7 linked regions of the Homo sapiens genome follow. The protein of the gene in region 2 interacts with the protein of the main gene of each other region in a biochemical or structural test. Each region holds a gene or a part of one and is shown on either strand. Other genes may lie near its edges. The genes, in order: CORO7, AP1M1, ARFRP1, VAMP4, SLC2A4, KIF13A and VANGL2.

Region 1 (3,500 bases), on a different chromosome or scaffold from region 2:
CAGGGGTGATCAGGAGCCCTTGGGAGACACTGGCCACCCCAGCCCCATTCCTGAGCCTGCCTGACCTGTGAGCACAGTCTCTGGCGTGGTGAGCACCTCTTCCAGGCCCTCTGCGGGTACCCGCCACAGTCGGATCCTGGCGTCCTCACCAGCTGCAGAGGACAGACAGGGGCTCATCATTGCTGAGCCCAAGACCTCTGGGCTCCCCAGCCCCTATCCGGGACCCAGGACCCTCCCTCAAGCCCAGGCACCCAGCCTCCTTACCCACAGCGAGGCGATGGGGGTCAAAGGGGTCCCAGGCCAGATCAGTCACAGCTGCCCCATTCTGCAGCGTGGGCAGTGCCGTGTCGGGCAGGCGGCCAGGCTTCCGTAGCTGTGGGAGGTGCCCCCACCCCGAGGCCCATCAGTACCAGGCAGAAAAGCCAGTCCCCAGGGGCTGCGGGCAAGCAGCATGTCTGGGAGCCCACCCTCTGCAGCAGAGGCTCCCACCGCTGGGTGACCCAAGCTCTCTGCCCTGACCACCTTGCGCTCTGAGCCCCAAGTGCCAACCACAAGGCCCCAGAGAGTGAGGGGGCAGCAGCGTGAACTGGCGGGAAAAGCTCCGGCTTAGGGCTCAGGTGGCCGGGCTTCGGATCCCAGCTCCACCACTTACACAGCTGTGTGACCCGGGCAGGTCACTAAACCTCTCTGTGCCTCTTCTCCCTCATCTGTAAAATGGGGATAAAAGTGGCAGGCCCCATGGCAGGTGGCTGGGAGGATCACAGGACAGGCGGGCAGGAGCCTGACACAAGGTTTGTGCTCCCTGTGTTGTGTGGGTAGCTAAGGCCCTCCGCGTCTTTGCCACAGGCAGGGAACTGAGGGGCAGCCCTGGTGGGGTGGGGCCCTCACCTCAAGCACAGCCACCTGTCCCCCGCTGCTGAGCAGCGGCACGGCCACACGCAGCTTGTTGGCACAGAAGCCGTCACTCTCACCAGGTGTGGTGAGGTTGAGCCCCTTGAGGTTGGTGATGTGGCTGTCTCGGTGCAGGACAGTGCCCTGAGCATGGCGGAACTTGGAACTGGGGCCTGGCAGGTGGCAGGGACATGGAACCACGTGTGAGGATGCCGTCCCCGCCCGCCCTGCACTCTTTGAGTCCCGGCTGCCCACTCCCCTCACCCCAGGTGGATGTACAGCATGGACCTAGGCCCAGGCCTTTGCTAATCCAGTGGATGCAACTCGCCCAGGAATAATGTCTGGAATGATATACCCTGTTCCATGGTGGCTCGGGGAATCTTGGTGGAGCCCAGGGCTTTGGCTGCTCAGAAGCTGGTGGCCCCAGCCGCCCTCCTATTTTGCAGGTGAGACTCAGCCACCACACCCCAGCCCCCAGGACAAATGACCCTGCCAGTGAGTCTGGGTGAGGGGGGTGCCCTGCATGAGGCCTGTGCTCAGCAGTAGGGTACACAGGAGGATGACGGGGAGTGGGGCAGACAGGGCTCCTGCGGTAGGGGTGAGCTCCCCGTCCTGCCTCCTTACCCAGCAGGCTCTGCAGCGACCTCAAACTGGGGCTGGTCCCGATGCCACTGGTGCTGGAGAGTGAGGGCCCCAGGCTGGAGGGCGTGGAGGGCGAGGTCAGCGAACTGGGAGGGGAAGAGAAACCCTCCTGGGGAGGGGCATGGGGTCAGCCAGCCTGCTCCTAGGTGTACTGGCCAAAAGGAGGGGGTGCCAGCGGACTCCAGGGTCACCACTCTGGGCCCCCTGCGGACTGGAGGAGCCCCCACTGTGGGCATGCGACAGGAGCGGCGGGGGGCACGGGCATAAACGCAGACACACAGGGAAGCAGCCGAGCTTCAGACCGCGGGGACAGCAAGTGGCAGCTGCTGGCTCCCAGCCCTGCAGGAGGGTGTGCCCAGTGGGTTAGATCTGCCAGTATTTTAAGAGAAGCCAGAAATCTAGATCTGTATGAAAATTCTTGCTTTTTAAGTGTTTGCCCAATTTAGAAAGCACTGTGCAAGTTCCTTCTTTATGCTCCACGTGTTTCTCTGTCTCTGTTACACTTGACAAAGAAGGTTGGGGCCAGGCGTGGTGGCTCAAGGCTGTAATCCCAGCAGTTTGGGAGGCCGAGGAGGGCAGATCACGAGGTCAGGAGTTCAAGGCCAGCATGGCCAACATGGTGAAGCCTGACTCTACTAAAAAAAATATAAAAATTGGCCAGGCGCGGTGGCTCACGCCTGTAATCCCAGCACTTTGGGAGGCCCAGGCGGGTGGATCATGAGGTTAGGAGTTCAAGACCAGCCTGGCCAACATGGTGAAAACCCGTCTCTACTAAAGATACTAAAGATACCAATTAGCCAGGCGTGGTGGTGCGCGCCTGTAATCCCAGCACTTTGGGAGGCCCAGGCAGGTGGATCATGAGGTTAGGAGTTTAAGACCAGCCTGGCCAACATGGTGAAAACCCATCTCTACTAAAGATACTAAAGATACAAATTAGCCAGGCGTGGTGGCGCACGCCTGTAATCCCAGCTACTCAGGAGGCTCAGGCAGGAGAATTGCTTGAAACTGGGAGGCGGAGGTTGCAGTGAGCCGAGATCGCACCATTGCACTCCAGCCTAGACGACAGGGCGAGACTCATCTCAAAAACAAAAACAAAAACAAAAATTAGGCCAGGTGCAGTGGCTCATGATTGTAATCCCAGCACTTTGGGAGGCCGAGGCGGGTGGATCACCTGAGGTCAGGAGTTCGAGACCAGCCTGACCAACATGGTGAAACCCCATGTCTACTAAAAATACAAAAATTAGCCAGGCATGGTGGCGGGTGCCTGTAATCTCACCTACTCGGGAGGCTGAGGCAGGAGAATCACTTGAACCCAAGAGGCGGAGATTGCAGTGAGCCGAGATCACACCATTGTACTCTAGCCTGGGCAATAAGAGCGAAACTCTGTCTCAAAAAATAAATTAAAATATAGTCGGCCATGGTGGCACATGCCTGTAATCCCAGCTACTCGGGAGGCTGAGGCAGGAGAATCGCTTGAACCTAGGAAGAGGAGGTTGCAGTGAGCCGAGGTTGCGCCACTGCACTCTAGCTTGGGTGACAGAGTGAGACACTGTCTCAAAAAAAAAAAAAGGCCGTTCAGCCGGTGAACACTCAGGGCAGCCACTGCAGTGTCGCTGAGGGAGGATGGGGGCGGCCCTGGTACTTACGCTTGCGTCTGCATCACCCACGGGTGTCTCCATCACCGCAGGCTGGGCTGTGTCAGGGAGGGGCTCCGCAGGGGGCACCAGACAGGAAGTGAAGCTCGGGTGGGGCCGGCAGGCGGGGTTGAGGCTGACCTTCTGCACCTGCATGGAGGCCGGCAGTGGGGAGATGGGGGCATGGGCTGCCCGGTCAGGAGGGCCCCCATGGGAGGGTCAACTGGGTAGGGATGGGGGGCACCCAGCAGGCCAGACTGAGTTGGCACACAGCCACACGGGGCTACCAGGGACTCGGGGAGGCTGGGAGAGGTGAGCCAGCCCTGGTCCTAC
Region 2 (3,500 bases):
CAGCCTACTTCCCAGGCTCGGTGGTGTGCTACAGGGCCCTGGACCCAGGTTATGGGGCAGGACAGCAGTGGCTGGCTGTGGGGTGGGGCCAGGCTGGAGCCACTGCAGATGTCCCGAGGCCTTCAGAAGCTCTGCGTTCCCATTCTCTTCCCTGCCCAGACACCCGCAGACAGGCAGCCCCTCCTGAGCGACTGTAACTGTCATCCCTTTCTGAGTCTGGAGTGACTCAGGCAAGGACCTGATGAGCTGCCATCTTCCCCATTTCAGTGGAAAGCTTGATGCATCTTCCCCATTTCAATGGAAAGCTCAGAAGGTTAAGGAAGGGACGCCAAAGAAGAGGGGCTGTTAGAAGCACTTTTGCAGGCACAAATGCTGAAGGAAGGAGCGTCACTAAAACAGAAAGGCACAGCCCAACCCTTGGGTGAGGACCTTCCCCTTCCCGCATCCCCCATTCTCTGATCTGCTGACCCCTGCGCGCTTCAGGACTGTGATCACCCGGCCTCTGCTTGGAAACCACAGGCAGCACAGCCAGGCCCAGCCCTGCCTGTGACAGCATCACCGGTCCAGTGAAGGCAGCCCTTGGCCTGCACGTGGGGCCTTCCCAGGTGACCCTCGGCTCCTTCCCCAAGCCCTCACCGCCCAGGCTTGCCCCTGTTCCCCAACATTCTGCACAGGCAGCATCAGTGAGGGATGAAAGCTTTCCCAGGCCCAGCACAGGCCTCCTGGGTCCTGTTCCCCACTTTCGTGAGCCCCACAGCCCACCTCGGCCAGGCCCATCCTCTCCGGGAAGCCAGCAGCAGCCTCCTCACTGGCCTCAAGTCCTCCTTCTGCTCAGCAGCCAGAGAGGCTGCTTTAGATCAAACCACGTCTTGTCAGTCTCCTGCTTAAAGCCCTCCACTACCTTTCATCAGAAGTGGAATGAAATCCACACTCCTGTATAATCCGCCCTCTTCCCAGCTGACCTCAGCCTCATACTCTGCCACACGCACGCTGGCCTCCCTAGCTGCACCACACATACACCTGTCCTGGCGCCTTCACCCTGGCTGCTATCTGTGTCTCACTGGCAGCCTGGGCCTGGCGTGTCAGCTCTCTCCAAGGTGGGCGTCAGGCATCTGTGCCTTGAGAGCCCCCTGGGAGATTCTGAGGTGGGCTCAGCTCTGCAGCTCTGCTGGTTATTCCAGCCCCATCCAGCTGGTCACCCCACATCCTTCCAAAGCTCGCTGACCCCTGCTTGTCCCTTCCAGGGTCAGGGCACCCCTGCTCTGAGCCCTACCTTTTCCTGTTCACTTTCCTTTCTTCCCCACGGTAGGGGAGCAACGTGAGCTATAGAATTCCACAGGCGTGGGGAGTTGGGACTCCCCTTTCCCACTTCCTGGGCTTCCAGCCCCAGTGCTCCCTGGGGATGCCACAGCTCTCTGTAGGGTGGCCAGGTATGGGGAGGTCCACAAGCAGAGCCAAGACAACCTCCACCCAAGCCCACGGCCCCTCCGAGCGAGACTCACCTGCACCACCTTATAGAGGAAAGAAAAGACCAGCGACACGCACGCGTTCTTCTTGGATGTGGCAACCACTGCATGGCGGCCACAGTTAAGGAGCATTCAGAGGCTGGGGCTGCTGCCTGGAAGATCCTGGTTCATGGAGGGACCCCCTAACCCTCACAACCCTCAGAGCCTTCCCTATCCCCACTCCCAGCCGTTTACTTGGCCCATGGTGGGCTACAAAGCTCCTGGTCCAAGCTAGACCTGGGACACAGGAGTCACCAGCCAGATGCGCTCCCAGGCCCCAGGGAGCACTCACTGAGATGGAGAATCACAGGGATGGCAGGTGGCACAGGGCACCTGTCCCGGCGGCTGGGTGAAGGGCTGCCTTGAGCAGGGAGGGAGTGAGGCTCATTCCAGGAGCAGAAAGCAGGACACACTGGCCCTGCTCCTCCAAAGCTGACCTCATCATGACCCTGCTGAGGTCCAGGGTCCCCCGGCCAGACTCTGTGGCAAGCAGCCAGGGCCAATTCTGGCTTCAGCCCTTCCTGGCTTTGGAAACACAAGCCTTGGCCCATGAAATAAACCTTTCTAGAGAAACCTTGATATTTCTCTCCTGTGTAATGGAGGCCTGTGAATGAACTCACCAAGGCAATGTAGGTGAGATGTCTGGCACAGATGTTCCCTTCTGCCACAGGAGCCAGCCCCTGCCTCCCAGGGTCAGTGTGTGCTGGGCGCTTCCTATTCCTTTTTCCCTAATGGGTCCCCGGGCCGCCAGAGAAGGCTGGTTCTTCCTCTGTAGGCCCATGCACTGCACCCTGGACATCCCTGTTCATGGCACATCTGTGCTGCCTGGCTCGTCTGCCCAGGAGTGAGCTCTAGGAGGGAGGGTGGGGGCTGTATCCTCTCCCTTCCCGCCTCACCCCAGCACAGCACAGGGGCCCAGGAAAGGGACGCTGGCCCAGTCAAACGAGTGCTGGCCTCCCTCCTGCTGCCTGGCAATGTGCCCTCCCCAGATGCTTTATAAGCAGGGGCAGTGGGGGCCTCTCACCTTCTCATGGGTGCCTCTCAGCCACGGCCTTGCTGAGCACTGTCCCGGCTGGGGGTGAAACGATGTCCACTAAGCCAGAGGGGTGAGCCCTCCCTGTCTCTTCCCTAGATGCCCAGGTGTGAAATGTGGGGGCCCAACCAGAAACTGATCTGATGGCTCCTGCTGAGCTCAGACCACAGCCACCTCTCCCTCTCCCAATACCTGGGCGGCTTCAGAGGACTGTCAGTTCCCTGGGTTAAAAGCCACCTAGGCCGGGCACGGTGGCTCACGACTGTAATCCCAGCATTTTGGGAGGCTGAGGCGGGCGGATCACGAGGTCAGGAGATCGAGACCATCCTGGCTAACATGGTGAAACCCTGTCTCTACTAAAAAAATACAAAAAAATTAGCTGGGCGTGGTGGCGGGCGCCTGTAGTCCCAGCTACTCGGGAGGCTGAGGCAGGAGAATAGCGCGAACCCGGGAGGCGGAGCTTGCAGTGAGCCCAGATGGCGCCACTGCACTCCAGCCTGGGCGACAGAGCGAGACTCTGTCTCAAAAAAAAAAAAAAAGCCACCTAAGATCATCTTCAGAGCTATTCTCAGGGCCTTCCAGAGCCAGGTGAAATCTACACAGAGGCACACCACAGGGAGCCCTGGGCCAGCACGGCCCACATGGGAATGTGCACACCGGCCACCAGGAACAAATCTTCCTACAATGCAGATTCTGACGGGGCAGGGCTGGGTGGAGCCTGGGATTCTGCATTTCCAAAGGGCTCCCAGCGGATATTCTGGCCCGTTGGCCACACTGTACTGGCAAGGCCCCAAGTGTCTCCAAGAACACAGGAAAGGGCACAGAGCCCATGCCTGCTGGGAGCAATATGCACAAGTCAGTTCAACTGACCCGAATGGTCCTGCAGTGAGGGGTCGTTGTTCCCACTGAACTGTGGGAAGGTGAGGGATCCCCCATGGCTGCTGGAGCTGGGGCTCAAACGG
Region 3 (3,415 bases), on a different chromosome or scaffold from region 2:
CGCCCTCCTGGGGAGAGGTGCCCTGCATAGCAGGAAGAGGCCTCTGGGCGCCTGCCCTGAGGTGGGAGAACCTCCAGGGCTGGCAGCAGCAGGTCTGGAGAGGAACCAGGCTTGGGAAGCTGCTGGGGGCAGGGCAGGCCTTGAGAATGGCTCTGTACCCCCTGGGCAGTCACTGGGCCTGGGGTGTCTGGGTGCACACCTGCTCCCCTTGCTGTGGGGGAGGCTGGGGACTCGGGAAGCTGCTGCGGGAGGCAGGGGTGGGGCTCACCTCCACATCCTGCTTGTTGGCCAGCACCAAGACGGGGACACCGCACAGCGCCTCGCTGGTCACCACCTTCTCTGGGGAGGGCAGGAGAGGCAGCGCCTCACACCCAGCATCCTGCCTCTGACTGCCCAGGGGCCCACAGGCGTGGACACTGTGACAGCCACTCCCTCTGCCCCCCCCCCCCCCGTCACCCACTAGGCAGGAGCACTTCTGACCAGACACTGAGCCTGCCCCAGGCACAGAGCTGCCCAAGCTGGACCTGCCCCCACTCACCATCCATCCCTCCCAGAGCAGCCAGGCCGCACTCACCAAACGCCTGCTTGGACTCAGCCAGCCTCTCCTCGTCGGTGGAGTCAATGACGTAGATGACGCCGTGACACTCCGCATAATACTGGGAGGAAGCACCAGGAGTTGGGGCTCAGTCCCCACCCTGCCAAGGGCCAGCAGAGCCAGGCCTGTGTCATGGCCACAGTGAGGGGCTCACATGAGGAAGGGGCAAGAGGGCAGCCCCCAACTGCAAGACCCTTCTGGGATGCATTCTGGGGTTGCGGGGAGATCTGGTGGAGGTGTCCCCAGACGCTGCTCCTGAGAACCTGCCGGCAACCTTTGGCCTGATGGTGGCCAAAGGTGAAAGACAGGGATTGGGCCAGGCGTGGTGGCTCACACTTATTATCCCAACACTTTGGGAGGCAGAAGCAGGAGGATCACCTGAGCCCACTTCACGGCCAACCTGGGCAACACAGTGAGACTCCGTCTGTACAAAAGCTTATGGTAATGTGCGCCTGCAGTCCTAGCTACTCGGGAGGCTGAGGTGGGAGGATGGCTTGAGCCTGGGAGGTTGAGGCTGTAGTGAGCTCTGATCACACCACTGCACTCCAGCCTGGGTGAGAATGAGAGACCCTGTCTCAAAAAAAAGATAGGGTTTGGGGGCTGGAGGAACCTAGACCACAGCCTGGCCCGTTGAGGGAGTGCACCTGTGGGGCTCTGTGCCAGCACCTCGCACAGGGAGGGAGTGTGGCCATGCGGATAAGACTGACCAGCGCCATCTACGAAGCGAGCCTTCCCTGCCAGGACAGGGCCAGAGTCACTGAGCTCAGACCTCTGCAGCCTGGGCTGGTCAGTCCTGGGCTCGCTGGCAACACTCCTGGGCAAGACAGGGCACAGCCCCTGCAGCCTCAGGTACAAGTGCTGAGCCCTGGACCAGATGAGTGCACCTCTATCTCAATCAGAAAAAAACACAGCAAACTCCGCGTCCACGTGGAGCAGACAACAGCTCACATTTGCCACTTTGCCTCCAGGCTGTGCCAGCTCTCCTGTCCAGGCATGAGTGCCCAGAGACCTAGAACTGGATGCTGACCAGGTAGGACAAGCTGGTGGTCAGTGTGTTAAGACACACACACCCGAGAGCATGAGAAGCCAGGAGGCACAGCCCAACTCTCCGAAATCCTTAGGGTGTCTGAGCAGGGAGTACCAGACAACCCCATCCCAGTGCCAGACAAGCTTGTGCACCTGCACTTCCCACAGAGGAGAGAAGCCTGTGCACCTGCACTTCCCACAGTGGAAAGGAGGAGGCCCAAGGCCAGGCCCCCCCACCCCCAGGAACTTCCCACAGTGGAGAGGAGGCCCAAGGCCAGGCGCCCTCCAGGGTTCTGCAGGTAGCGAGGCCCCCCCACCCCCAGGAACTTCTCTGGCCTACAGACAGGTCCCACACAGAGGCCGCCAACCCCTCAAGGGACCCTGCAGTGTGCCGGCTGTCTGCTGCTGACACAAGGGAGCAGGCGGACCCTAAGGTGGAGACCTCTGTGGCAGGAGGGGCGGCTCTGTGGAGGCTGCAGCAAGCCCAGTGAGAGAATCTCCACGTGGCTCCTGGGGCTTCTGAGCAGGGTGGCAGAAGGTTCATGTGCAACCGGGTCCTGGACCATGGGACCACGTGGCCAGAGCCACCCATCACACCTACCAGGCACAAGGTGCACAGCCCAGCAGGGCCGCAGTGGACGGGAGCGACACCTCAGGGCTGAGTGCGGGCAGGACCCAGAGCCCCACGCCCCAGTGGAGGCGTCACAGCAGTGGTCATTGTGGGGTGCCCCACAAGGAGGGGGAAGAGGGAGGTGTCCAAGCGTGGCTCCTGGCTGGCCAGCTGACCCCAGTGGAGCAGTCAGAGGGACTGTGGGTCTGAGTTTTTCTCCCCAGCAGCAATGGGAGCTCCCCAACTGCAAAGTGCCAGCCAGCCTGAGAGACTAGTGTTACAGCAAAGAACCCAGGAGCTGAGGTCCTGGCACATGCCACACATGTGGACACCAACCCAGGGTCCAGCCCCAGGACGAGGCCAATTCGCAATGACGCCCCTTTCTGTGGTGCTGGCTCTGCACAAGGATGCAGGATACAGGAAACCAGGGTGGGAGCAGGGGCCTCCCTTCCGGTCCCTCCCAGTGACCTAGGGGGGTCCCTGCAGCTGATCCTCCCAGCTCTGAGCTCAGCAGGGTCAGGGGTCCCGGCCACTAGAGCAGCACATACTCAGCAGACACGCTGAATGACGAGCCACAGCTGCCTCATGGGCATGACTTGCACCTCATGTCTAGGAGACCCTGGTGGGCAGGAGATGGGGCTGCCATCCCACAGCTGTCCCACAGCTGGGGACCCAGGGAGCCACTGGCCCCACCACGGTGGTGTCTGGAGAAGGGCTCAGACTGCCAGGAAGTCGCACCCCAGCAGAAGTGGTAGTGAATTGGGAGGGCACTCAAGGAAGGGCTGTGCAGCCCCAAGACCAGCAGCAAGGATGGGCTACAGTGGCCCCCTTAAGTCTCCCTCTTCCAGTTTCGCCTTAAGAGAGGCCCTCAGGACCTTGGAGGAACCCCTCTCCAACGTGGAAGTGTGGGTCCACATAGGGCTGCAGCTGTGGCCAGTGCAGGCATCTCTGGCCCCACTGTATTCTTGCTTCATGTTGGAGAACACTGCACCAGCAGATGGTCTCATTTTGGTTTCTGTGGGACCCACTTTGGCTGCAAAGAGCCACACTGCCAGGTCACACCTGCCCAGGGCAGCCCACACTGGGGACCCACCAGGCCATGGTGTGAAGTCCCGGCCAGCCTGGCCCCACATGGCACAGCATAGCCAGTTCTCCTCCAGGGCTCCCTGCTGGGCCAACCACAG
Region 4 (3,500 bases), on a different chromosome or scaffold from region 2:
GAAAATCAATGTGCAAAAATCACAAGCATTCCTATACACCAATAACAGACAAACAGAAAGCCAAATCATGAGTGAACTCCCATTCACAATTGCTTCAAAGAGAATAAAATACCTAGGCATCCAACTTACAATGGATGTGAAGGACCTCTTCAAGGAGAACTACAAACCACTGCTCAACGAAATAAAAGAGGACACAAACAAATGGAAGAACATTCCATGCTCATGGATAGGAAGAATCAATATTGTGAAAATGGCCATACTGCCCAAGGTAATTTATAGATTCAGTGCCATCCCCATCAAGCTACCAATGACTTTCTTCACAGAATTGGAAAAAACTACTTTAAAGTTCATATGGAACCAAAAAAGAGCCCACATTGCCAAGACAATCCTAAGCCAAAAGAACAAAGTTGGAGGCGTCACGCTACCTGACTTCAAACTATACTACAAGGCTACAGTAACCAAAACAGCATGGTACTGGTACCAAAACAGAGATATAGACCAATGGAACAGAATAGTGCCCTCAGAAATAATACCAGACATCTACAACCATCTGATCTTTGACAAACCTGACAAAAACAAGAAATAGGGAAAGGAATCCCTATTTAATAAATGGTGCTGGGAAAACTGGCTAGCCATATGTAGAAAGCTGAAACTGGATCCCTTCCTTACACCTTATACAAAAATTAATTCAAGATGGATTAAAGACTTAAATGTTAAACCTAAAACCATAAAAACCCTAGAAGAAAACCTAGGCAATATCATTCAGGACATAGGCATGGGCAAGGATTTCATGAATAAAACACCAAAAGCAATGTCAACAAAAGCCAAAATTGACAAATGGGATCTCATTAAACTAAAGAGCTTCTGCACAGCAAAAGAAACTACCATCAGAGTGAACAGGCAACCTACAGAATGGGAGAAAATTTTTACAATCTACCCATCTGACAAAGGGCTAGTATCCAGAATCTACAAAGAACGTAAAGAAATTTACAAGAAAAAATCAAACAACCCCATCAAAAAGTGGGCGAAGGATATGAACAGACACTTCTCAAAAGAAGACATTTATGCAGCCAACAGACACATGAAAAAATGCTCATCATCACTGACCATCAGAGAAATGCAAATCAAAACCACAATAAGATACCATCTCACACCAGTTAGAATGGCGATCATTAAAAAGTCAGGAAACAACAGGTGCTGGAGAGGATGTGGAGAAACAGGAACGCTTTTACACTGTTGATGGGAGTGTAAACTAGTTCAACCATTGTGGAAGTCAGTGTGCGATTCCTCAGGGATCTAGAACTAGAAATACCATTTGACCCAGCCATCCCATTACTGGGCATATACCCAAAGGATTATATCAAGGGAACCACCCCCGATAATTCAACATAGGACCTTTTCTATTTTCCCTAAGTGTCGGCTGGTCTGAGTAATAAAGGGAAAGACTACAAAAGAGAGAAATTTTAAAACTGTGTGTCTGGGGGAGACATCACGTGTCGGCAGGTTCTGTGATGCCCCCCTACGCCGCAAAACCAGCAAGATTTTGTTGTGATTTTCAAAGGGGAGGGAGTGTACTAATAGGGTGTGGATTATAGAGATCACATGCTTCACAAGGCAATAAAATATCACAAGGCAAATGGGGGCAGAGCAAGATCACACGACTGGGGCAAAATTAAAATTGCTAATGAAGTTTCGGGCACGCACTGTCATTGATAACATCTTATCAGGAGACAGGGTTTGAGAGCAGACAACTGGTCTGACTAAAATTTACTGGGCAGGAATTTCCTCGTTCTAATAGGCCTGGGAGACCAGGGCTTATTTCATCCCTTATCTGCAACATATAAGACACACATTCCCAGAGCAGCCATTTTAGAAACCTCCCCTAGGAATGCATTCTCTTTCTCAGGACTGTTCCTTGCTGAGAAAAAGAATTCAGTGATATTTCTCCTATTTGCTTTTGTAAGAAGAGAAATATGGCTCTGTTCTGCCCAGCTTTCAGGCAGTCAGACCTAATGGTTATCTCCCTTGTTCCCTGAACATCGCTGTTATCCTGTTCTTTTTTCAAGGTGACCAGATTTCATATTGTTTAAACACACATGCTTTACAAACAATTTGTGCAGTTAATGCAATCATCACAGGGTCCTGAGGCGACATACATCCTCAGCTTACGAAGATGACGGGATTAAGAGATTAAAGTAAAGACAGGCACAGGAAATCACAAGAGTATTGACTGGGGAAGTGATAAATGTCCATGAAATCTTCACAATTTATGTTCAGAGATTGCAATAAAGACAGGTGTAAGAAATTATAAAAGTATTAAATTGGGGAACCAATAAATGTCCATGAAATCTTCACAATTTATGCTCTTCTGCCATGGCTTCAGCCAGTCCCTCCATTCGGGGTCGCTGACTTCCCACAACGGATTATAAATCATGCTGCTATAAAGACACATGCACACATATGTTTATTGTGGCACTATTCACAATAGCAAAGACTTGGAACCAACCCAAATGTCCATCAGTGACAGACTGGATTAAGAAAATGTGGCACATATACACCATGGAATACTACGCAGCCATAAAAAAGGATGAGTTCATGTCCTTTGTAGGGACATGGATGAAGCTGGAAACCATCATTCTGAGCAAACTATCGCAAAGACAGACAACCAAACACCGCATGTTCTCACTCATAGGTGGGAACTGAACAATGAGAACACTTGGACACAGGGTGGGGAACATCACACACCGGGTCCTGTCATGGGGTGGGGGGAGGGAGGAGGGATAGCATTAGGAGATATATCTAATGTAAATGATGAGTTAACTGGTGCAGCACACCAACATGGCACATGCATACATATGTAACAAACCTGCACACTGTGCACATGTACCCTAGAACTTAAAGTATAATAATAAAAAATAAAAGAAAATACTTAAGGATCAATTTGACAAAGAAAAAAATACAACATCTGGACACTGAAAACTACAAAACACTGCTGAGAGAAATTAAGTACCCAAATAAATAAAAAGATATACTATGCTCATGGGTCAGAAAACCAAATATTGTTAAGATGTTAATTATCCCCAAATTCATCTATAGGTTCAATATAATCTCAACCAAAATTCTAGCAGGCTTGCTGGAAACTGACAAGATGATTCTAAAATTTATATGAAAATGCTTAGAGCCTCCAATAGCCAAAAGAACTTTCAAAAGGCAGTGCAAAGTTGAAGGATATACACTACACTACCTCACAACTTACTATAAAGTCGTAGTACTCAGGATAGTGATTACTATGGTATTGATGTAAGAAAGACACATAGAGTCCAGAAATAGAGCCACACATATATAGTCAATAAATTTTTATTGTGGTAAATATATATAACATATATTTACTATTTTAACCGTTTTTAAGCATACAGTTCTGTGGCATTAAGTAATTCACTTAATGAACTGTCATCACCATTCATCTCTAGAACTTTTTCATCTTTCAAAACTGAAACTCT
Region 5 (4,108 bases), on a different chromosome or scaffold from region 2:
AAACATCGGCCCAGCCTGTCAGGCGCTTCAGACCTGGAGAAGGGAAGGTCAGGCCTGAGGGGACCTGAGAGGAAGCCAGGTGCTAGCAAGATGAGGCGGAGGCATGGGCCTGGGCCAGGCTGCAGCGGGAGAGCTTACTCTTTCTGGCAGGCCCCTCGAGATTCTGGATGATGTAGAGGTAGCGGGGGCTCTCGGGACAGAAGGGCAGCAGGACCAGCTGCAGGAGGGCAGGTAGCACTGTGAGGCCCAGGAGCAGTGGCCACAGGCTGGCAGTGCCCAGGAGGGACTCCAAGCCCAGCACCTGTGGGAGAAGGTTGGGAAAGAAGGCAGGTCACTCAGCCCTTCTGCCTTACCTTGGAAGCCCACCATATTCTCCAGAGCCCCACTCTAACCACTGCCCAGGCACCCATGAGGCTTGCTCCGGTCACCTGGGCGATCAGAATGCCGATAACAATGGCCAGTTGGTTGAGCGTCCCCAGGGCGCCCCGCAGGTGAGTGGGAGCAATCTCCCCCACGTACATGGGCACCAGCCCTGATGTCAGCCCTGGGCGAGGGAAGAAGAGAGGGCTGAGGGCAGGTGTCCATTCCCATCTGAAAGCCCAGGCATGGTGAAAGAGAACAGGGCGCTAGGCAGGGCTGTGGTGCCCGTGAGTACCTGAGTAGGCGCCAATGAGGAATCGTCCAAGGATGAGCATTTCATAGGAGGCAGCAGCATTGGCCAGGCCCATGAGGCTGCCCCCCAGCACCGCCAGGACATTGTTGACCAGCATGGCCCTTTTCCTGGCAGGCAGACAGAGTGAGGCTGTGAGGGTGAGGGCACCCAGCAGTGGCTCCCTTCCTGTTTCCCCCACCCCTGCCCTCCAGCTGCGAACCTTCCAAGCCACTGAGAGATGATACCAATGAGGAAGGAGGAAATCATGCCGCCCACGGAAAAGATGGCCACGGAGAGGGCCCAGAGGGTGGTGAGGGTGCCTGGAGGGATGGAGCTGGGTCCCTCAGGCCCCTGCCTCCCCAGCCACGTCTCATTGTAGCTCTGTTCAATCACCTGGGGGACAGCAGAGGACAGATTTCCTGCAGACCGTCCCCTTTCCACCACCCCCGAGACACCTGTCCTCCTCGTTTGGGTACCCCCACCCTGCCAGCTGCAGGCCCTCACCTTCTGAGGGGCATTGATGACCCCAATGTTGTACCCAAACTGCAGGGAGCCAAGCACCGCAGAGAACACAGCAAGGACCAGGGTCCCAGTCACTCGCTGCTGAGGGGGTTCCCCATCCTGAACAGGCAGACACAAAGACACAGCATGTCACATGGAACCATGATTTTTTTCCTTCCGCTAGGGGCCCGGGCCCAGCTGGAGCCTGAAGATACTGGGCTCCACCCAACATGTTGGGTGAGGGAAACTGGGCCATATTAGGAATTGCACAAAGATCTCAATGTAAACAGGAGCTGAACTGCAACCTGGGCATAAAGGAGAAACTGGATGTTTGGGTCCATAAGGCAGAGAAATGTTTGAGAACTTGTCTCAAAATTCTTCTGTGACCTTGAGACAGGCTTGGCCTTAAGAGCTCAGATTTGTGTGACCTTGGCCAAGTCACTTCCCTGCCCCGAACCTGAGTGTCCTCTGTGAGATGGGGGTGATGTTGCCTGCCTTGCCTACCTATCTGTGAGAGTGTTGTGAAAATCAACATCACATGTTAACAATATCCTTGACAGTGCTGGTTTCATAAATTAACACGTGCATTATTATCATCAGCCACTGTCCTCTTCCCTCCCCTCTGGGGGTTCTGTCAGCCAGCTCCAGGAGGCCCCCAACAGGACCAAGAAGTGCTGTTCCAGAAAGGACATCCCGGTCATCTAGGGGTGGCCTTCTCTATCTACGTCGTGGCCTGCCCTCCCCCTCTAACCTCCGTGCAGGGAGGGCCGTCCAGGGGTTCTGCCTGGGAGAGCCATGCCCAGGGGAGGAGGGCAGGAAGGTAGTGTGAGGGGCGGTGGCAGTGGTGGCCGCTCGCTGGCGGCACAGACTGTCTCCAAGCGGAAACCTGAGCTGGAGGAGGGGGGGCTGACAGTCCCCTCTGCCCCTCCACCAACCATGGGGCCAAGGGAAAGTTCAGCGTCCTGGAGGGCGGCCAGGAGTGGGGGTGGGGGCCCACGGAGAGCCTCCGGTCCTCGAAACACTGCCCGTGAGCGAAGACGGACGGACAGCTCCCGGAGGGCAAGACCCGCCTGGATCTGCTTTCCCGAGTCGGATCGAGGGCAGGGTGTCCCCGATTCCGGAGCGCCGCGCCGCCTACTAGGCAAGGGGGTGAACCCTGGCTCGCAGAATCCACTTGCTGCCTGTGCCCCGAAAGGCCCTCCAGACCCACTCTGCCTTTTGGTAGGATTGGAATCTCACAGTCACGGGTTGTCCAGGCCGGGTATAAATAGCCAGCCCCCTACCTTCACCCCCTGCGCCTGCGCAGGAACCACCCCCAGCTGACCCCAACCGCGACCCCAGCCCAAGAAAAGCGGGACCCGTGCCCCCCCGCCCCGCCCCCTCATGATGAATCCTACTTCGGAGCCTATCTGTTGGAAGCCCGACGGCATCTCGTCTTAGAAGAGCTGGACGCGCAGGGGCGGCGAAGATGAAAGAACCGATCCTGGAGTCTCTGACTCCGGCCTGGAGCGCAGAACCTGCGGAGGCCGCGGGGGTCCCGGAGTGACGTGCGAGGGCGGGCCCGATGGGACCCACAGCCACAAGCCAAGGACCCGGAGAGCAGTGGGGCTCCCGCGGATCTGGTGGAGCGGGGCTGGGGGAAAAGACGCGAGAAGCCCCCGCCACCTCGCTCCTGCCCCCGCGGGCCACGCCCTTCACAGCACCCATTGGCCAGGAGCCCGCACACCCCAGAAGGCCACGCCCCCTCCGCCTGGGGTTTAGAGTTTGGCTGGAGTTGGTGGGGCGGGCCAATGAGGCCACGCCCCTCCGCGTGGCTGGCGAGACACGCCTCTCGGGTTCCCGCCAGCCTCCGACTGGGAAGTTTTGAGAAAAGAGTCCCTGGAACAAAAGGCCCCGCCCACCCACGTGTTAGGACTCCGCCCACCAGCTAGGATCCCGGGCTGCAGAAGCATCTTAAACTCTGCGGGTCTGGACAGTGGGGTCTGAGAGGAGAGGACGGGCCAGGTGTACTTGCCCCGGGGAAACTCCAGCGGCCTGAGACGGCTCGCGAGCCGGCGCGCGGGTTGGGAGAGGAGCAATGCCCCAAAGTAACCCGGGGCTGCTATTTTTAGCTCCCACGTTGGGAGCCTCCAAATGTCAGGTCCCGGGCGTCCCGGCCTGTCCCAGGCGGGGGCGGAGAGACAGGGAGATGACGCCTTAAAGAGTCCGCGACATGCTTCCCACGCGAGTGTGGCCCTGGGGGCCAGGAAATTCCGTTCCCACAACGGGTCTGGTGGCCGGGCTGCTTGGTCCTGTCTTTCAGCGCCTCCCTGCTCCGGGCACTGTCTATCCCGCCCTTCCCCTACACACATTCCCCAGGTTGGTTCCTGGAGCCGGTCCGAGGGACAAGTGGTCACAACCGACCACACCACCAGCCCTGAGGTCTCTGAGCCTCTGAGGTCTCTGAGCATATGCTGGCCGCGTGAACGACACGCTCTCTGGAGGCTGCTCCGGGTTTGGATCCTCGGCCAAATTCTGCCAGGCAGAAAGTGCGCGACCTAGGGTCGGCGTGTGGGGAGAGAGAAGCCGAAATACCCAGAGCGTGGAGAGTGTCTGGCTCAGAAAACGGGCTTCGGAAGCGCAGGGTTGTGCTGCCACCTGGAGGGCGAGCGAGGAGCCGCAGTGGATTGCACTTGGAATCTCAACCCACTATTTCTCGCCTTTCCGCCACCATAGGGCTTCAGTGACATCTGACCCAGGCCCTTCTCTGGAGCTGCAGATCCAGGTGTTCGTTACCGCCCGGATGTGGCAGCTCTAGTGATCAGCATGTCCAAACCTGCTCCTCCTCCTAACTTCCTTATTTCAATGAATTACCCGCCCAGTCACCCCTATGGTAGAAGTCAGGCTCGATTCCTCCTGTCCTGCGCCGCTCTCCTCGTTTATCCAGTTAGTTTCCAACATTGGTGCTTTGACCTC
Region 6 (3,500 bases), on a different chromosome or scaffold from region 2:
CAGTAAAAACAAGTGAGAATGCATTGACGTCCAGGGAAAAAAAAAAAAAACAGATGGGGTCAGCTTTCATTGTTTCCCCATTTTACAAAACCAAAGCCAAGACTGTGTAGCTAGGACTAAAAGATCAGAGGATCTCTGAGGTTAAAGATGTTTGTTTTGTTGCTGAAATTCTAGTATTGTAATACATTGCATAGGTCCAGGTTAGTAGTTGATATGTATACTGATCACCATTCTGAAACATTAAGACACATGGATTTGTTTCTTAAAATACCATTGCATTGCTCTCCAGGAGACATTTATGAAGTTCAGATCATTTCAGTACCATGCTCAGCATAGGGGATTCAAAGATACTTGTGGATCCAGTACCTACACCAGAGTCACTCACCTTGGAGAGAAGGAGGAGAGAGAGGAAAAAGTAGTTAAAATACAACGTGGTAAATTACGCTGGTGTATACTTTTGCCATTTCATGAACCACATAATTTCAAAATTCTCTGTTTCCTCTTTCTCTCCCTGGAGGCTGTGAACTGCTTGAAGGCAGGTAGGTACCTTATCCTACTTCTCTTTGTACCTCATGCTCCTGCATACTGGCACTTAGCAAGGGCTTAGCAAATGTGATGGGAGCATTGAGGAGGGGCTGTGGATGCTACCCAAGGTCCTGTCAACTTGCCAAGACAGGTGGTGTTTGTGTGGTCTTATGGATGCTGAGAGCATAGGTTCACTTTTGCAAGACGAGGAGAGAGTCCTTTGCCAATGAAAGTGAAAGCATACCTGCAACACATTGCTTCTGGGTGCTTGTATGTGTGTGAGGTGAGGGGGTGGAGTACCATTCAGAAGCAAGGTAGTTCTGGGCTGGGTGAGGTAGCTCACACCTGTAATCCCAGCACTTTGGGAGGCTAGGGTGGGCGGATCTCTTGAGGCCAGGAGTTTGAGACCACCCTGGCCAACACGATGAAACCCTGTCTCTCCTAAAAATATAAAAATTAGCCGAGTGGTACATACCTATAATCCCAGTTGCCTAGGAGCCTAAGGCAGGAGAATCGCCTGAGCCTTGGCGATGGAGGTTGCCGTGAGCTGAGATCGTGCTACTGCACTCTCGCCTGGGCAACGGAGTGAGACTGCATCTCAAAAAAAAAAAAAAAAGCAGCAGCAGCAAGACAGTTTTGGGGGTGGGGTGGGTGTGGGTGAAGGGATGGAGTGGGGTGAAGGGAGCAATGGAATGAGAATCCCTAACTTGCTAAAAAGGGTGACATACACAGTGAAATGTCTTCCTCTTCACCCCTGCTGTCATCCCTACTTTGCCCATCTCTTCACCTCTCGGAAAATGGGTAGCCACTGTCATTTAGTTCTCATGCCTTTTTTTCCAGATATATATGTGCATTTTTAATACAACTATATACACAAATAAGTATTTATATATTTTTTAAGAAATATCTTTGGTAGCTTTCTTTTTTTTTTTTTTTTTGAGATGGAGTCTCGCACTGTCACCTGGGCTGGAGTGCAGTGGCGTGATCTCGGCTCACTGCAACCTCCGCCTCCTGGGTTCAAGCGATTCTCCTGCCTCAGCCTCCCGAGTAGCTGGGATTACAGGCGGCCACCACCACGCCCAGCTAATTTTTTTGTGTATTTTTAGTAGAGACGGGGTTTCACTATGTTGGCCAGGCTGGTCTCAAACTCCTGACCTTGTAATCCGCCTGCCTCGGCCTCCCAAAGTGCTGGGATTACAGGCGTGAGCCACCACGCCTGGCCCCCTTTGGTATCTTTCAATATCAGCATATTAAGACTTACTCATTCTTTTTTACATTCAGTGTGAATGGTAGTGGTGGTTTTTAAAATATAGGTGGTTGGCTTACGGGTCTGATCCCCGTGACTTTTAGGAAGTGATGCTGTGCTGTGAAAAGAATATAGTGGAACTTGCTTTCTACAGAAGTTTTTGTTCTTAATTATTTTATGTAAGTGAATTGTAAGGTAAGACTCCAAAATAAAGTGCATATCTAACCTACTGTGTAAAAATAAAATGTTGGGCTAAATATGGGCTCTCGGTAGAAGAGCATGAAAGTTTTTAGCTTCCTGTTCATTTTTTCCATATGGCAGGATGAACAATACACCTTGCAAATCGTGTGAGGGAGGGTCAGTTGAAGAAAGCTTCCTCTTACTAAACTTTGTATGTATTTTTTAGTTTATTCACCAGCGGTATCCCTGTCTGAACATCTGAAATCTAAAATGCTCCAAATCCTGGGGGCCAGACACAGTGGCTCACATCTGTAATCCCAGCACTTTGGGAGGCCAAGGCAGGCAGATCACCTGAGGTCAGGAGTTCGAGACCAGCCTGGCCAACATGGTGAAACCCTGTCTCCACTAAAAAAATACAAAAGTTAGCCGAGTGTGGTGGTGCACACCTATAATCCCAGCTACTTAGGAGGCAGAGGCAGGAGAATCACTTGAACCCAGGAGGCCGAGGTTGCGGTGAGCTGAGATCGAGCCATTGCACTCTAGCCTGAGCAACAAGAGTGAAACTCTGTCTCAAAAAAAAAAAAGAATGCTCAGTTGGTAAGTATATAATGCATATATTCCAAATTCAAGAAAAATTCAAAATCCAAAACACTTCTGGTCCCAAGCATTTTAGATAAGGGCTATTCAGTCTGTAAATATTGCAAGTTTTTATTTCTAAGCTGGCTTCCTCCGCCATTCTGAAGGCTTCTAGGATGGTTCCTTGGCTCCTGTGTCTCTGTAGACCAGAAATTTAAATATTAGTGAAAGTCATACATAATTAGAAAGATAAGTCACCTAAGAAGCAGTAATACTCCACATTATAAAATCACCTGTGGGACTTTGAATTCTCTTTTCTGTGTTGTTATTCTTCTCTCTGCCCATATTACAGAGTTAATTGTAAGAAAGCAAAGAATAAGGCCGGACACAGTGACTCAGTGACTCACACCTGTAATCCCAGCACTTTGGGAGCCTGAGGCAGGCAGATCACGAGGTCAGGAGATCGATATCATCCTGGCCAACATTGTGAAACCCCATATCTACTAAAATACAAAAAATTAGCCTGGCGTGGTGGTGTGTGACTATAGTCCCAGCTACTCGGGAGGCTGAGGCAGGGGAATGCTTGAACCCGGGAGGCGTAGGTGGCAGTGAGCCGAGATCATGTCACTGCACTCCAGCCTGGCGACAGAGCGAGACTCTGTCTCAAAAAAAAAAAAAAAAAGAAAAAAGAAAAACAAAACTAAAAGTAATTATAATGCATTGTAGTTTAGAGTGGTTATATTATTTTGTTGACAGTCAACAGTTAAAAATACATTTTACATTATGAACCTGTTTATGTGGATATGTATATTTCAAAGGTTATGAAAAAATACTCTTAACTGTATGCAATGTCTTTTATTTTCTATCCCCTTCTGTTAGAATTCATTAAAAAAATAATGGCTATGTCTTACCGAATTATTTCTCAACCCACTAATGAGTCATAAACTTATATTTTGAAAAACATAGGTTTAGT
Region 7 (2,303 bases), on a different chromosome or scaffold from region 2:
TTTCAGGGAAAAGAAGGGCCTACAAAAGGACACTGTGAGTTACTCAGAGGAATGGCCTAGTCATTGCAGCCATCAGAAAGGTCCTCCATGTGGATCCTGGCTGGATGTATATGGGTACTTCCTAATTCTACTCTCCTTGGCAAAAATGTCTGAGTCAAAGGCTCAGATTTATATTGAAAATATTTATTAGAGGGCCAGCAAATTTTGCTCAAAATGAGATCTAAATTATCAAGAATTTGGATTTGGTGCAAAGACTATGGAAGCTAAAATGGGGTGAGGGGTGAAGTACCTACAAAAGGCAGTAATCCTTGCCCCTCAACCCAATACAGACGGAGCCCAGAGCTCAGAGAATCAGGCAGGGAGAAAAGGGGTGGGGACCCTGGAAGGCCAAGGAAACGAGACCCCTGAGGCAAAGAACTGGACTTAAGGCAGGGGATGAGGAGGAGCTGCCGGCTCTTCCCCAAAAGAGATGAGGCAACAGGTCTCTGGAGTCGAGAGAAGGCGGCAGGACAGGGGTGGCTGGTGACAAAAATAAAAACATTTGTCTAAGACCACAGGGGCTGGGTCAGGGTCTGCAAGCCACTATGTCTGTACAGGAGTCTACATACCATCCTTCACTGGGAAGAGCGGGGACGAAAGTGAGGGTAGGGTTAGGGAGCAGGAGTCAGTGATGGGGGTCTCTCCAAAACCTCAGGGATCTATTCAGCCCTCCTCCTCAGGGGCTGCCTAGGAAGACACATTGGAAGAAAGGTACCTTCCCCTAAGTCCCTGGAAAAGTGGTCACAGAGGGTTTCCACGTGGTTGCCTATGGTCACGTGACCATACAAACCAAAAACATTAGGTGGAGATTTCTGGGAAAAGGATGGGATCCTTCTTTGCTCTAAATATATGTGGAAGCAAATGCTCCTAGCAAGGAGATTTCTAACTCGGGCTGTGTGGCAGGAGTATCCCTGCCCTAGAACCCAGGGTTTGTTGTGGCTGGGGTGAGGGACAGGAGGGCCAGTTGCTGCCCTGGAGGAGTTTGGCACTGTGGCTCTCTGGAGTCATGTCCATGTGCCCCAGAGAAACCCTGTTGGGCCACTGAAGAGAAATGTTTTAAGAACTTGGATTTGTGAGTCGGGGCTCAGGAGGGGAAAGTACAATCAGCAGGGCCCTGTGCCCTTTCAGGAGAGACTGTAATCTGGGAAAAGACTAGGGAAAGAAGAGGGAGAGAGGCACTGATTCCTGCAGGGCCTAGAGTAATACAAAAGTTGTTGGTGAGGTGGGAGTCCTTCCCAGGTACTGTTGACAGCAGGATGGTCTCTCCAGGTTCACATGGGGTAAAATAAGGAAGAAGCGAGGAGAGAAGGTGGGGGTGCGTTAATTCAAGTAAAAAAAAAAGAGCAAGAAGAAGAAGGGTGGCAGGAATGTGGCTGGGCCTGAGAACCAAGCCCCCTCCCACCCCCTCAGGACCCCCCAGAGTTTCCCACTCCCCCTGCTGTTGCACAGTCACACTGAGGTCTCAGACTGCAGCCTCATGACAAACTTGTGTGACTTGGGATCCACAAATTCCTCGGAGAGTTTGAAGAATGGGACCTTCTTGGTGCTGACCACCAGGCTGAAGTCCTGGCGTTTTAAGAGGAAAACGATGCCATCCTTGAGGCCGTTGGTCACCGGCTCCTCGCTCACCAATGTCCACTGTTTGGCCAGCCAGCGTTCCTTGTGGTACTGGATGGTAGGTCCAGCCGCCAAGTATCGCTCCAAGAAGGCCTGAAGTGGAAAGAAGGGGCTGCATAAGAATCTCTGTCATCTACCCACGGTCCTTCATCCCCTAGGTCATAGTTTCCAAAGACAAGAAGGACGTCCCTGAGCTCACTCTATGCATATGAACTAGAACCTCAGAATGTTACAGCAGGAAGGGGCCTGAGATCATCTGCTTCAGACCCTCATTTTATAAATGAAGAAGCCGGAGTGCACAGGGGGATGTGGCTCATCAGGTAGGACTGAACTCGGCTCCCCTGACCCCCATCTGCTGCTCTTCTCCCTGCACCAGGCTGTGACCTGGGCAAGCCCTCCCTCATTCTTCCTTCCTTCCCACACAGCTTGTATGATTCGTGCCAAGCAGGTCTGCACCAGGAGGGAGCCAAAGGTGTCAAGGTTAAAGTGCAACATCTTTAGTTACCTGCTCACCAAGGGTGGCTCAGGGAAAGCAATTCTAGGAAGCTGGCAATAGAGTTGAAGGTGGGCAATGGCTCAAAATGACACAAAGCCAAGACCAGCTAGTGGAGGTGAAGAGGGTAATGGAGGTGAAAGTGGGCCTTTGG

What was found.
Region 1: the proteins of AP1M1 (region 2) and CORO7 interact in a test that uses a peptide from one of them, tested with the Homo sapiens proteins (one study listed by BioGRID).
Region 3: the proteins of AP1M1 (region 2) and ARFRP1 form a complex in vitro, tested with the Homo sapiens proteins (one study listed by BioGRID).
Region 4: the proteins of AP1M1 (region 2) and VAMP4 form a complex in vitro, tested with the Homo sapiens proteins (one study listed by BioGRID).
Region 5: the proteins of AP1M1 (region 2) and SLC2A4 form a complex in vitro, tested with the Homo sapiens proteins (one study listed by BioGRID).
Region 6: the proteins of AP1M1 (region 2) and KIF13A form a complex in vitro, tested with the Homo sapiens proteins (one study listed by BioGRID).
Region 7: the proteins of AP1M1 (region 2) and VANGL2 form a complex in vitro, tested with the Homo sapiens proteins (one study listed by BioGRID).

What each region holds. Positions count from the first base shown.
Region 1 is NC_000016.10:4,361,097-4,364,596, forward strand, and holds part of CORO7 (coronin-7), read right to left. Parts: intron 3,318-3,500; coding exon 3,180-3,317; intron 1,643-3,179; coding exon 1,516-1,642; intron 1,065-1,515; coding exon 889-1,064; intron 374-888; coding exon 265-373; intron 153-264; coding exon 66-152; intron 1-65. Other genes in the region: CORO7-PAM16 protein, read right to left, coding at 66-152, 265-373, 889-1,064, 1,516-1,642, 3,180-3,317. UniProt on the Homo sapiens protein: F-actin regulator involved in anterograde Golgi to endosome transport: upon ubiquitination via 'Lys-33'-linked ubiquitin chains by the BCR(KLHL20) E3 ubiquitin ligase complex, interacts with EPS15 and localizes to the trans-Golgi network, where it promotes actin polymerization, thereby facilitating post-Golgi trafficking.
Region 2 is NC_000019.10:16,204,411-16,207,910, reverse strand, and holds part of AP1M1 (AP-1 complex subunit mu-1), read right to left. Parts: intron 1,571-3,500; coding exon 1,503-1,570; intron 1-1,502. UniProt on the Homo sapiens protein: Subunit of clathrin-associated adaptor protein complex 1 that plays a role in protein sorting in the trans-Golgi network (TGN) and endosomes.
Region 3 is NC_000020.11:63,701,562-63,704,976, forward strand, and holds part of ARFRP1 (ADP-ribosylation factor-related protein 1), read right to left. Parts: intron 657-3,415; coding exon 575-656; intron 340-574; coding exon 269-339; intron 1-268. UniProt on the Homo sapiens protein: Trans-Golgi-associated GTPase that regulates protein sorting. Controls the targeting of ARL1 and its effector to the trans-Golgi. Required for the lipidation of chylomicrons in the intestine and required for VLDL lipidation in the liver.
Region 4 is NC_000001.11:171,721,566-171,725,065, forward strand, and holds part of VAMP4 (vesicle-associated membrane protein 4), read right to left. Parts: intron 1-3,500. UniProt on the Homo sapiens protein: Involved in the pathway that functions to remove an inhibitor (probably synaptotagmin-4) of calcium-triggered exocytosis during the maturation of secretory granules.
Region 5 is NC_000017.11:7,280,410-7,284,517, reverse strand, and holds the start of SLC2A4 (solute carrier family 2, facilitated glucose transporter member 4), read right to left. Parts: upstream 2,801-4,108; 5' UTR 2,584-2,800; coding exon 2,551-2,583; intron 1,274-2,550; coding exon 1,157-1,273; intron 1,046-1,156; coding exon 873-1,045; intron 781-872; coding exon 656-780; intron 545-655; coding exon 429-544; intron 302-428; coding exon 139-301; intron 34-138; coding exon 1-33. UniProt on the Homo sapiens protein: Insulin-regulated facilitative glucose transporter, which plays a key role in removal of glucose from circulation.
Region 6 is NC_000006.12:17,981,136-17,984,635, reverse strand, and holds part of KIF13A (kinesin-like protein KIF13A), read left to right. Parts: intron 1-3,500. UniProt on the Homo sapiens protein: Plus end-directed microtubule-dependent motor protein involved in intracellular transport and regulating various processes such as mannose-6-phosphate receptor (M6PR) transport to the plasma membrane, endosomal sorting during melanosome biogenesis and cytokinesis.
Region 7 is NC_000001.11:160,424,564-160,426,866, reverse strand, and holds part of VANGL2 (vang-like protein 2), read right to left. Parts: intron 1,750-2,303; coding exon 1,489-1,749; 3' UTR 1-1,488. UniProt on the Homo sapiens protein: Involved in the control of early morphogenesis and patterning of both axial midline structures and the development of neural plate. Plays a role in the regulation of planar cell polarity, particularly in the orientation of stereociliary bundles in the cochlea.